Linked DNA regions of Homo sapiens: region 1 is linked to region 2. Evidence: fine-mapped expression QTL. Tissue or cell type: lung. Region 2 holds a variant in brackets; the other region holds the start of a gene. All regions are shown on one strand. Distances are between the middles of the regions.

What was found. PIP is the estimated chance that this variant, and not a neighbour inherited with it, causes the effect. A credible set is the group of variants that fine-mapping cannot tell apart.
Region 1: MROH2B starts here. The variant in region 2 is the best candidate, but not a certain one, in a credible set for the expression of MROH2B in lung (GTEx, PIP 0.69).

The regions. Positions count from the first base shown.
Region 1 is chr5:41,068,564-41,073,563 of GRCh38, forward strand. MROH2B (maestro heat like repeat family member 2B) reads right to left here and starts at 2,779. Exons shown (of 42, transcript NM_173489.5): 1 at 2,262-2,779; 2 at 1,128-1,189. The coding sequence starts at 2,289. LOC105374739 (a long non-coding RNA gene) reads left to right here and starts at 2,794. Exons shown (of 6, transcript XR_001742650.2): 1 at 2,794-3,365.
Region 2 is chr5:40,971,385-40,976,384 of GRCh38, forward strand. It overlaps C7 (complement C7), which reads left to right. Exons shown (of 18, transcript NM_000587.4): 15 at 1,019-1,210. Among named protein-coding and RNA genes, the nearest start is that of C7, 64 kb to the left of the region's middle. The variant A/G (reference allele first, on the strand shown) is at 2,575.

The DNA of each region.
Region 1 (5,000 bases), 97 kb after region 2:
TAGCTGGCACCTTAACCTCTTGGTTATGCTGGCTATTATTATTCTTTAACTAGACTCATCATAAAATAACTAGGAAGTGCTTGTTAAAAATATATATTCTCTGATCCCTTTACTGGAAATTCTCCTTCAATGTTTCTGGGATCCGGAGGTTATTCTCTTAAGTGATTCCCAATGTTTGAGAAATAGTGTTCTTTCGGAAAGGTGACTTCTACTGAGAGATTAATGTAATGGTTTTCAACCGTACCTAAATGTTTGGATTACCTCCAGGTGCTTAAAATGCCCAAGCTTTTCACAGACTGATCCAATCAGAATCCCTGGTAGTAGGGCCTGGGTGTTGATATTTTCCCAAAACTCTCTAAGGGATTCTAATATATGGTCAGGGTTGAGAACCACTGAATTAAGAGATAAAGGTATAGGCACTGCCCTTCACAAGGAGACAACACTGAATAATGATTAGGAACATTTTTTTTTGGAGTCAGATGGGCTTGCTTTTGGATATAGTCCTGTTGTTCTTAGTTGAGCAAGTCATGTAACTTCTCTCTGCCTAATTTTTTCTCAGTTATCAAATGGAAATAGCAATAACTACCTGATAAAATTGTTCTGAGGAGTGAATATTATACAATACACTGTTGTTTGGAAAATATCTAGCATTTTACTTCCCAGATAAGTGTTCGATGAAGGGCAGTTATTTCTTTTATTTTATAAAAGGTTGTTGAAATGTGAAAAGCCTTCAATTCTTAGGTAAACTTCTAGCTGTGAAATAGCATTATAGATGAGCAGGGAAGAGCTTTTGGGATTTTTGTAACAACCCTCAAATTATAAAAGAAACAGTCTCATCCACATGTTTGTAAGTCTGACATACACCTTTCAACATCTGCCTGTATAAAGTTATAAAAAGGAACTTTTTTTTTGCTATTTTCTAGACATAGATGCTGTGATTCTTGAAATGCCAAATATCATTGCTTAAACATTACAATGACTTTCATTACAACTGCATTTACTGAAAAATCTAATGCCATGTAACAAGCCAGAGAAAAATGAGAAAGTTGAGACAAAGAAAAATATATACGAAATGTTGCAACAAGAAGACTGAAAAAGGGAAAAAGATTTTTCTCTGTTTTCCCTACCTTGTTAACAATATCTTCCTTGTTCAGCATGCCAAGAGTGAGGTTAATATCCCCAAACATCTCTAAAACGTACAGAAAAATATGAATTGAAATATATGCTGAAATGCCCTCCTGTTAATTATTTTGTAATCAACACAGAAAGTTCATTCATTCATTTATCCTCTCTCTCTCTCTCTCCCTTGACTGCTAGCTCTTTGATGGCAGGAACTGTTTTATTCATATCCATGACATAAATGAAACTAGCAGATGCTAAGTTATTATTATTTTTGAAACCTGAATCAAATGTGAAAGGGAAGATAAAAGATGCCGGATTCCTATGTATCCCTCCAGGCAAGTGGGCATTGCCTTGTAAATTCTCTCTTGCAGGATTTAGCTCTCAGAGTCAATGAGGTGAATTTCTCACTCCTGACTTAAGCATTAGAAGGCAGGGGTGCAACATAGCTGTTTATTTTTCACTGGTCCTCCCCTCAATACCTCTCCCATCTTCTTTTTCCATACCCTTTTCAACTCCACCTATTCTCCTGTGCCTGCCAACTCCCTCTTTTGGTCACATGCTAATGAAGGCTTCCTGTTTTCTGACAATGACCTAAATGTGTTTGACTTGCATTTTCTAGGAATATATGTTTTTGAATAAAGCACTCTAGAAAACTGGAAAAAAAATTGAGTCAAAGGAATTGAGCAATTTCAAGCTACATGGCAAGTTGGTAGGAGAAATACTTTTGGAGATGAAGATTTCTTATTAACCTCCACACCAAACAACATACTCATTTAGGGCAATCTTTTTGGCAAAGTAGAAAGGCAGCCATACCTGGAAATTGGGAGAAATACTTCCAAAGGACTCTTCTAGTATTTAAAATTAAATAACAAACTGCCTTTCTTTGATATGTAGCCACTTTCTCCTCAGGTAGACTCTAAATTTTAAAGCACAACCATCTCTTAGGCTTCCAGTCTATTATTGGTCCTTCACAATCAGCATGATTTTATTATGTATTTAGCATACCATTTCATAAATCCTTTGAGGTGTACAGTCCTCCCACAATGACGCGCCACTCCCAGCCCTCATATATACTTATAATTCCACAGAAACAAAACACAGGGAAGAGCCTTGGCTTCTCAGGATCTGATGATGCTTACCTATGGATTCCTCTGTACTAAGTGTCATGTCTTGGCTGTTTCAGGGTCTCTAAAAGATAGCACCTAAGTATTAGAAATAGTAAGGCTAAAAAATCAAAGAGGCAGGTTGGCAAGTTTCTCATATAAGGTTCACATAAGCCTCTCTAAATGAAAGTGCCTCCTCCACTTGATTGGCACAATGGTCTGGGAGCTTCCAGAGATGGGCTTGCTGTTGAAGTTGATACTGTATTCTACCACTATGACATTGTCTTGCGTCTGAACTCCTGCTAACCAACAAAATGGCTGCATCTCACCAAATATTGTCCCTTTGGTGACCAGAGTATTTGGGAAAGAAGTAATTAGAGACTGGGATTCAAACCATTGTTGCAGACCAAAGGTGCTCCTCTCCCTAAACTTGAGTCCATTGATCACAAATTCAGGAATGGTTTTCAGTAGTTGCTTTACTGTCCTGATGTTGGGAAAGGCTTTATGGTGAACTCGTTGATTGTTACACTTAGTGAAAATCAGTCATATGAACTGAGCATGCTCAGTGGACTGGAATGCACTTCAGGGGCAGTTGGATGGAATGTCCAACTGACAGCAGCAAAGTGAAGACCTCTCTACCTCCCTCTCCATTAATTCCTCCCTGGCATGTTCAGGATCTTGGCCTCACTCCAGGCTCAGGCTTTTTCTCTGTCTTCAGCTTTCTTTTTGTTTTCAAATTATTTTTTATCTAGATCAATTTTCCATAATGTTTTCAACTTATCTAGCATGAATTGAAATCTGGTCCCCAACTATAAATCTATGTGATGACAATCTTCAATATATGTCCAGACTCTATGTGAATATGGAGGATGATAGAGAAAGGGAAGGCAGTACTGCTAGTCTATAGGGCTAAATGTAGAATGGGCTGAGGAGGGGAGCTCATGACAATTTTCATCTGCTGCTGCTTTTTTGGCCATCTTAACTTCATCGGTGAAGCTTATTCCAGATTCAAAGGTCAACTGCTTCCAACTAAACCTTTGAATTCATCATTCTTCTCATAGACATTTTGCACTGTATTAAAGAGATCCTCAACATTTTCCGCTTCCCAAGTCAGCATCACTTTCAGAGTTTTGTCTCCAGGTGACTTTATCATGGGATTTACTTGGTATCCTTATTTAAAATGTGAATTCCCAGGCCCCACTTCAGACCCAGTAAATTAGAATGAGGGGGCAGCAATCTATATATTTAATGTGCGCCCCTGGTGATTCTTAGGTTCACTGAACTTTGAAAAGCACTGACCAAGGTCCTTGCCCAAACATTCATTAGTGGATCAGTAAATAGCAGTTAACTGAAGAATGTTTGTTGTGGTTGGGCAAGGAGCTCTTCCCCAGCATCATGACTCACTGAAGAATAGGCCAAGTTTGGTTAGTCAGGGAGGTACTGGGGTGATTAGAGGCATCCCGAAACTCTTAACATCTATAAGATGTTAAGTCTACTTGTAGTAAATAAAACAACAGATTCCCTATAAGGGAAAAAATGATGTTAGAAATTATGTGCTCTTAGAGTCTTAAAAAACAATGTACAGCAGAATCAATAATAAGAAAGCTAGCCATTTAGGTAATTGTTACAACCATTTTCTTAATATTTTTGTGAATGGTGACAAATGATTTTTCTGTATGTCTGTATATAAAGACTTCCTTGATTTCATAGAGATTAGAGAAGTTAGGAGATAATTGATTTATTTTGACTTTTAATTTATTCATCGCTGCAATCAAAACACAACTTTTTGCTAAAATCCTTTCAGACAAAGTAAATTCACTCATTGAAACCAATACTGCAGATAGTTTTAAAATCCCCAAATCCTCAAAATAGCTGATTTGCTGTCATTTTATTTCATTTTTCAGTCGCCTGCTTGTTACATCTTCCCATTATTTCTTCCTCTTCTCATTGCATGAGGCTAACACAATATGGATTTGATTTCTCTAAGACTCTAAGAGGATCCTAAACACGAATTCTCAAAGTGAATAGGATGGCATGTGCTAACTAATTAAGTACTGTTTCTAGATATTTGTGAGGGAGCCTAAATCTAGCCTGCTAAGGAATTAGAGTGTCTCACTGGATATGTGGTAGCCATCCCCTTTCAATGTAACTTGTCAAATGAAGCTACCCAATCCCAGGCCTACTATGTTCCCACATGATGTTATCAGACAAAAATATTAATAAGGCAGTAAAGGTAAAATATAAAGCTAAAGAAGAATAGATACATAGAAATAATACAGAAACGTTATAAAAATTTAAATTTTATGGTTTTAATAGTTTAATTGTAGATGATTTTAATGTATACTACAATTAATCTAAACTTTGATATTTATCCTTTTATTCTTCAGATGACGTGTTAGATTTTTATAAAATATATTAAAAGTGAAATTAGGCTGTGTTTTGTTTGATTTGTCAGTTTCATGAGATAAGCCTAATTTCTTTTTTAAAAATTTTATTATTATTATACTTTAAGTTCTAGGGTACATGTGCACAACGTGCAGTTTTGTTACATATGTATACATGTGCCATGTTTGTGTGCTGCACCCATTAACTCGTCATTTAGCATTAGGTATATCTCCTAATGCTATCCTTTCCCACTCCCCCCACCCCCCAACAGTCCTCAGTGTGTGATGTTCCCCTTCCTTTGTCCATGTGTTCTCATTGTTCAATTCCCACCTATGAGTGAGAACATGCGGTGTTTGGTTTTTTGTCCTTGCGATAGTTTGCTGAGAATGA
Region 2 (5,000 bases):
TTTTGAGAAATGTCTGTTCATATCCTTTGCCCACTTTTTGATGGGGTTGCTTGTTTTTCTGTTGTAAATTTGTTTAAGTTCCCTGTAGATTCTGGATATTAGCCCTTTGTCAGATAGATAGATTACAAACATTGTCTCCCATTCTGTAGGTTGCCTGTTTACTCTGATGATAGTTTCTTTTGCTGAGCAGAAGCTCTTTAGTTTAATTAGATCCCATTTGTCAATTTTGGTTTTTGTTGCAATTGTTTTTGGTGTTTTAGTCATGAAGTCTTTGCCCATGCTTATGTCCTGAATGGTATTGCATAGGTTTTCTTCTAGGGTTTTTATGGTTTTAGGTTTTACATTTAAGTCTTTAATCCATCTTGAGTTAATTTTTGTATAAGGTATAAGGAAGGGGTCCAGTTTCTGTTTTCTGCATATGGCTTGCCGGTTTTCCCATCACCATTTATTAAACAGGAAATCCTTTCCCCATTGCTTTTCTGAGCCCAGGAATTTGAGGCTGTAGTATACACTGATTAGACCTATGAATAATCACTGCTCTCCAGCCTGGGCAACAAGACAGACCCTGTCCCTAAAAAATAAAAATAAATAAATAAATAAAAGTGGTGTTTTAATAATTTCAGACGGCAAAATATCCAACTGGATGAAAGTTAATGAAACTCTCCTGGTGGAACATCACTAGAGCACATAAATAAGTGACAGCTGTGAAAAGTTTGGTTTCAACAGTAGGCTGGGCATTAGGACTCTATTGGGGTTGTTCATTTTAAGTTGTCACATTGTTTTGAGGGGAGGGGTGGGAGAGGGGGAGCTGTTTTGGTTTTTAGATATTCATGGGTCAATTACGTGCCAGGCTCTGTGTGACATGTCTTTCAGTCCACCCTAACAGTGAACTTACGTCTTCCTCCTTGTCCTCTAATATGAAAAAGCAGAACAAGTGTGTCTGCATCACATAAGACTTTTTTAAAAAGATGGTTTAGGAGAGCAACGACCCTTATATTTTGCTCTCTTTTATCTTTAGAAATTGCCTGTGTTCTACCTGTACTGATGGATGGCATACAGAGTCACCCCCAAAAACCTTTCTACACAGTTGGTGAGAAGGTGACTGTTTCCTGTTCAGGTGGCATGTCCTTAGAAGGTCCTTCAGCATTTCTCTGTGGCTCCAGCCTTAAGTGGAGTCCTGAGATGAAGAATGCCCGCTGTGTACAAAAAGGTGAGTGGCTTCCATGTCTATCCAAGGACACTTGTACCCAGGCAAGTGAGAGTCCTTGTGGCGACCTTCATGGTACTGTATCACCATAGCTGTGAGTCATTCCCTCCATTCTTGCTCCTTAAGATAGGGTCAGTTTGTAGACTGAGTAACAGATTTTCTTCACATGGCACAGAAAGACTCATGAAAGCAAGGAAAGGCAAGGATAGCCTGGTGATTCTGAAACTTTTAACTTAAATCATCCTTGTGAAAGATTAGCTTTATATCTGTTATGGTGCCAAGACAATAAAGGATTTTTAAAATCTGTTTTTTGTTTGTTTGTTTGTTTCCTCTAGATTTTTTTCCCCTGCATTTTTCATAAGTACAGAGTTGAGATCATAATTTATTTAAAGTTCTGTATGTTTCATTTTTGGGCTTTCAAAGAGTTTATCAGTATTTCTGAAATTGAAAATTTAGAAAGCATTTTCATTTAACACTTTAAAGCAGACATTATTGAAGGAAAAGTGTTGTGATTCATGAAATTGTTCTTAATGTGGAAACCCAAAAATCCAGTATTTTAACACCAAGAAAATTAAAATGGTCTTTTAAGAACCTAAGGTAGAAAGGATTTAGAAAGCCAAATTATTTCTTTTTAGAGGTAATTTTAGATGAGATAGATTTGTTTGACAATAACCCCTTATTTATTCTTTGTTTACATTTTTTAAATAAATGGAAAATATTGTATTTGTAACAAAAATGAGAATGAAGAAAAACTCACTTGCATACTATTTTATGTGATATTATCTCTCTAGTATGTGATTTTTAATTAAACGCTGAAATTTATTTTTAATAGTGAGGATGAAGTACTAGATTTCACAGGTGATGGTGTGAGGTGAATTAGATGTTTCTAACTAAGTTCTCCATGCGACAGGGTATGGAGCACTCAGATACTGATGGTAGATATGGGCTGTGATGTGAAGTGGATGAGAGGCAGAACAATAGGCAAGACACACGTCCTTGGAGTGCCCTCCCTGCCTGTCCTGATGTGCTGTTAAGTTATCAAAGCTCCATCTCAGAGGACAGTTGTTTTGTGTTCTGTAAACACTGAAGTATAAACATGAGTTTACTTGGAATATTTAAAGTCATGGACCAGTACTTACAATTCTAAAAATGAAAGAGAACAATATACAGTTGATGAGGTTGCACTTTTGGTTCAAATGAGATTGTAGACTAGTCTGTCTAAAATGCTACTTCAGCTATTTTACAGCACAGTTTGGTATGAAGTTTCATTTACCCAGTAGAAAATTCTATTAAAGTGGGTTTTAATTAAGGATGTTTTTCAGATCTGTGTGTTTTTCTGAAGATGTGAATAACAGTAACTACTTCTA[A/G]GCCTATAACAAACAAAAAAATCCAAGACTTACCAGCTTCCAAAGTTGATGTTTTAAAATGTTGGCTGTTCTAGTATTTAGTCTTTTTTTTTATTATAATAAAGCATACATAACATAACATTTACCATTTTATCCATTTTTAAATGTATGTTCAGTGGCATTAAGTAATTCCCATTGTTGTGCAACCATCACCACATTTTTTTTCATCTTTCCAAACTGAAGCTCTATATCCATTAAACATTAATTCCTCACTTTCCCCTACTGTCCCCGTAGTTAGTCTTGATGGGAATAAATTTGCTTTTAAAATAGCAAAAGCACATACTTTCGGTGGGCCTTAAGAGTGTGTTTACTTGGTTAACCAAGCTGTAAAGGCAACAAAGCTATGTTCTTCTTAAATGCAAAAATTCTTTGGGCTAGGTAATTCTATCGTTTTTTTTTTTTTCCACAAAGACATTATAATACATTTTTTTTTTTTGAGATGCAGTCTCGTTCTGTCACCCAGGCTGGAGTGCAGCGGCACAATCTCAGCTCACTGCAAGTTCTGCCTCCCGGGTTCACACCATTCTCCTGCCTCAGCCTCCTGAGTAGCTGGGACTACAGGTGCTCGCCACCATGCCCGGCTAATTTTTTTTTGTATTTTTAGCAGAGACGGGGTTTCACCATGTTAGTCAGGATGGTCCCGATCTCCTGACCTCATGATCCGCCCGCCTCGGCCTCCCAAAGTACTGGGATTACAGGCGTGAGCCACTGCGCCCGGCTTGACATTATAATAGTTTAAGCAAACTTTTAAAATCTAAAATTTCAGGATTTGTCCTAAAGTAAATTTTTAACCACAGTGCAGAACTAATTTACATGGCTTGATCATTGACCTTAAGTTTTGGTACATCTAGATTAAGGCTTCTCAACCTCAACGCTATTGGAATTTTAGGTCTAATAATTCTTTGCTATGGGAGCCTCTTCTGTGCATTGCAGGGTGCTTAGCAGCATCCCTGGTCTCTACCCAACAGTAGCATCCTCCTATGTCAATAACATTCTGCAGTTGTAAAAACCAAAGATGTCCCTAGTGATTTCCAGATGTCCCCTGGGGGACAAAACTGCCCCTGGTTGAGAAGCACTGATGTAGATAATACCATTTTTAAAAAATTTCATTTTGGAATAATTTTAGATTTCAGCAAAGTCACAGATATAATTTCTACACACCCTTCACCCATCTTCCTTAATATTAACATCTTACATAACACAACTTGGTTAAAACTAAAAAATTAATATTAGTACAATGCTATTGACTAAACTATACACTTTATTCAAATACCTCATGTTTTACCACTAATGTCTCTTTTATGTTCTAGGGTCCAGTTCAGGGTACTACGTTGCATTTAGGATAATACCATTTTAAAGAGAAGTGTGCTTTTTTTTTTTTTTTGAGACAAGGTCTCGCTTGTCCAGGCTGGCTGGAGTGCAACGGCGCAATCTTGGTTCACTGCAACCTCCACCACCCGGGCTCAAGCAATTCTCCTGCCTCAGCCTCCTGAGGAGCTGAGATTACAGGCATGTGCCACCATGCCCGGCTAATTTTTGTATTTTTAGTAGAGACAGGGTTTCACCATGTTGGCTAGGCTGGTCGTGAACTCCTGACCTCAAGTGATCTGCCTGCCTCGGCCTCCCAAAGTGCTGAGATTACGGGCGTGAGCCACCGCGCCCAGCCAAGAGAAGTGTTTTAATAATGAATCTTGTTATTGAGACTGCTGACCATGGCAGGCATACTTCACATTGCCATCATTTTTACAGGTTTATGAATGCTCACAAGATTGTAATGTCATGTCCAAGGCTCTTGAATTTTCCAAAGTAAGGAAGTATTTCATAGTTTGTGTATTCATAAAAACATATTCTCCAGATAAACTACCTTTATAGATATAGTAAATGACTATCTAGTTTTATGATGCAAAAGTGTATGGCAATGAATTTCATTGTAATAAAGCTATTACGAGGTGAAAAAAGTCAGGATGTTTTTAGATCATTCCCATTGCAATCAGGGATAGCTGAGGGGATGGCAGTCACATTATGCTCTTGTAAGTTGGACCACGGTGTTTACCTGTCAAAACTGAAATGATGACTGAATTGTCAGTTTCTATAAAACACAAAGTTATAGAAAGAATTTTATTAACGTAATGACCTCCAGACATTTATTCACTGTTGAGGGAGACCACTTAGACATTCATATGTAAGAGGTTATTGTAGATCTTCTCGGCACACCAGGGAGTTCTCCATGTATAAGGCAAGTGATGTTGCTGCTTTTTGCCTCATTATGGGCACAGCAGGCAGAATGCAGTCCAAACAACAAACAGTTTATAAGCACCAGCTTCTTGAAAGGGAGCCACTTTATTGTCCTTGGATTCAGACCAATGTAGAATTAAATGCTGCCTGGG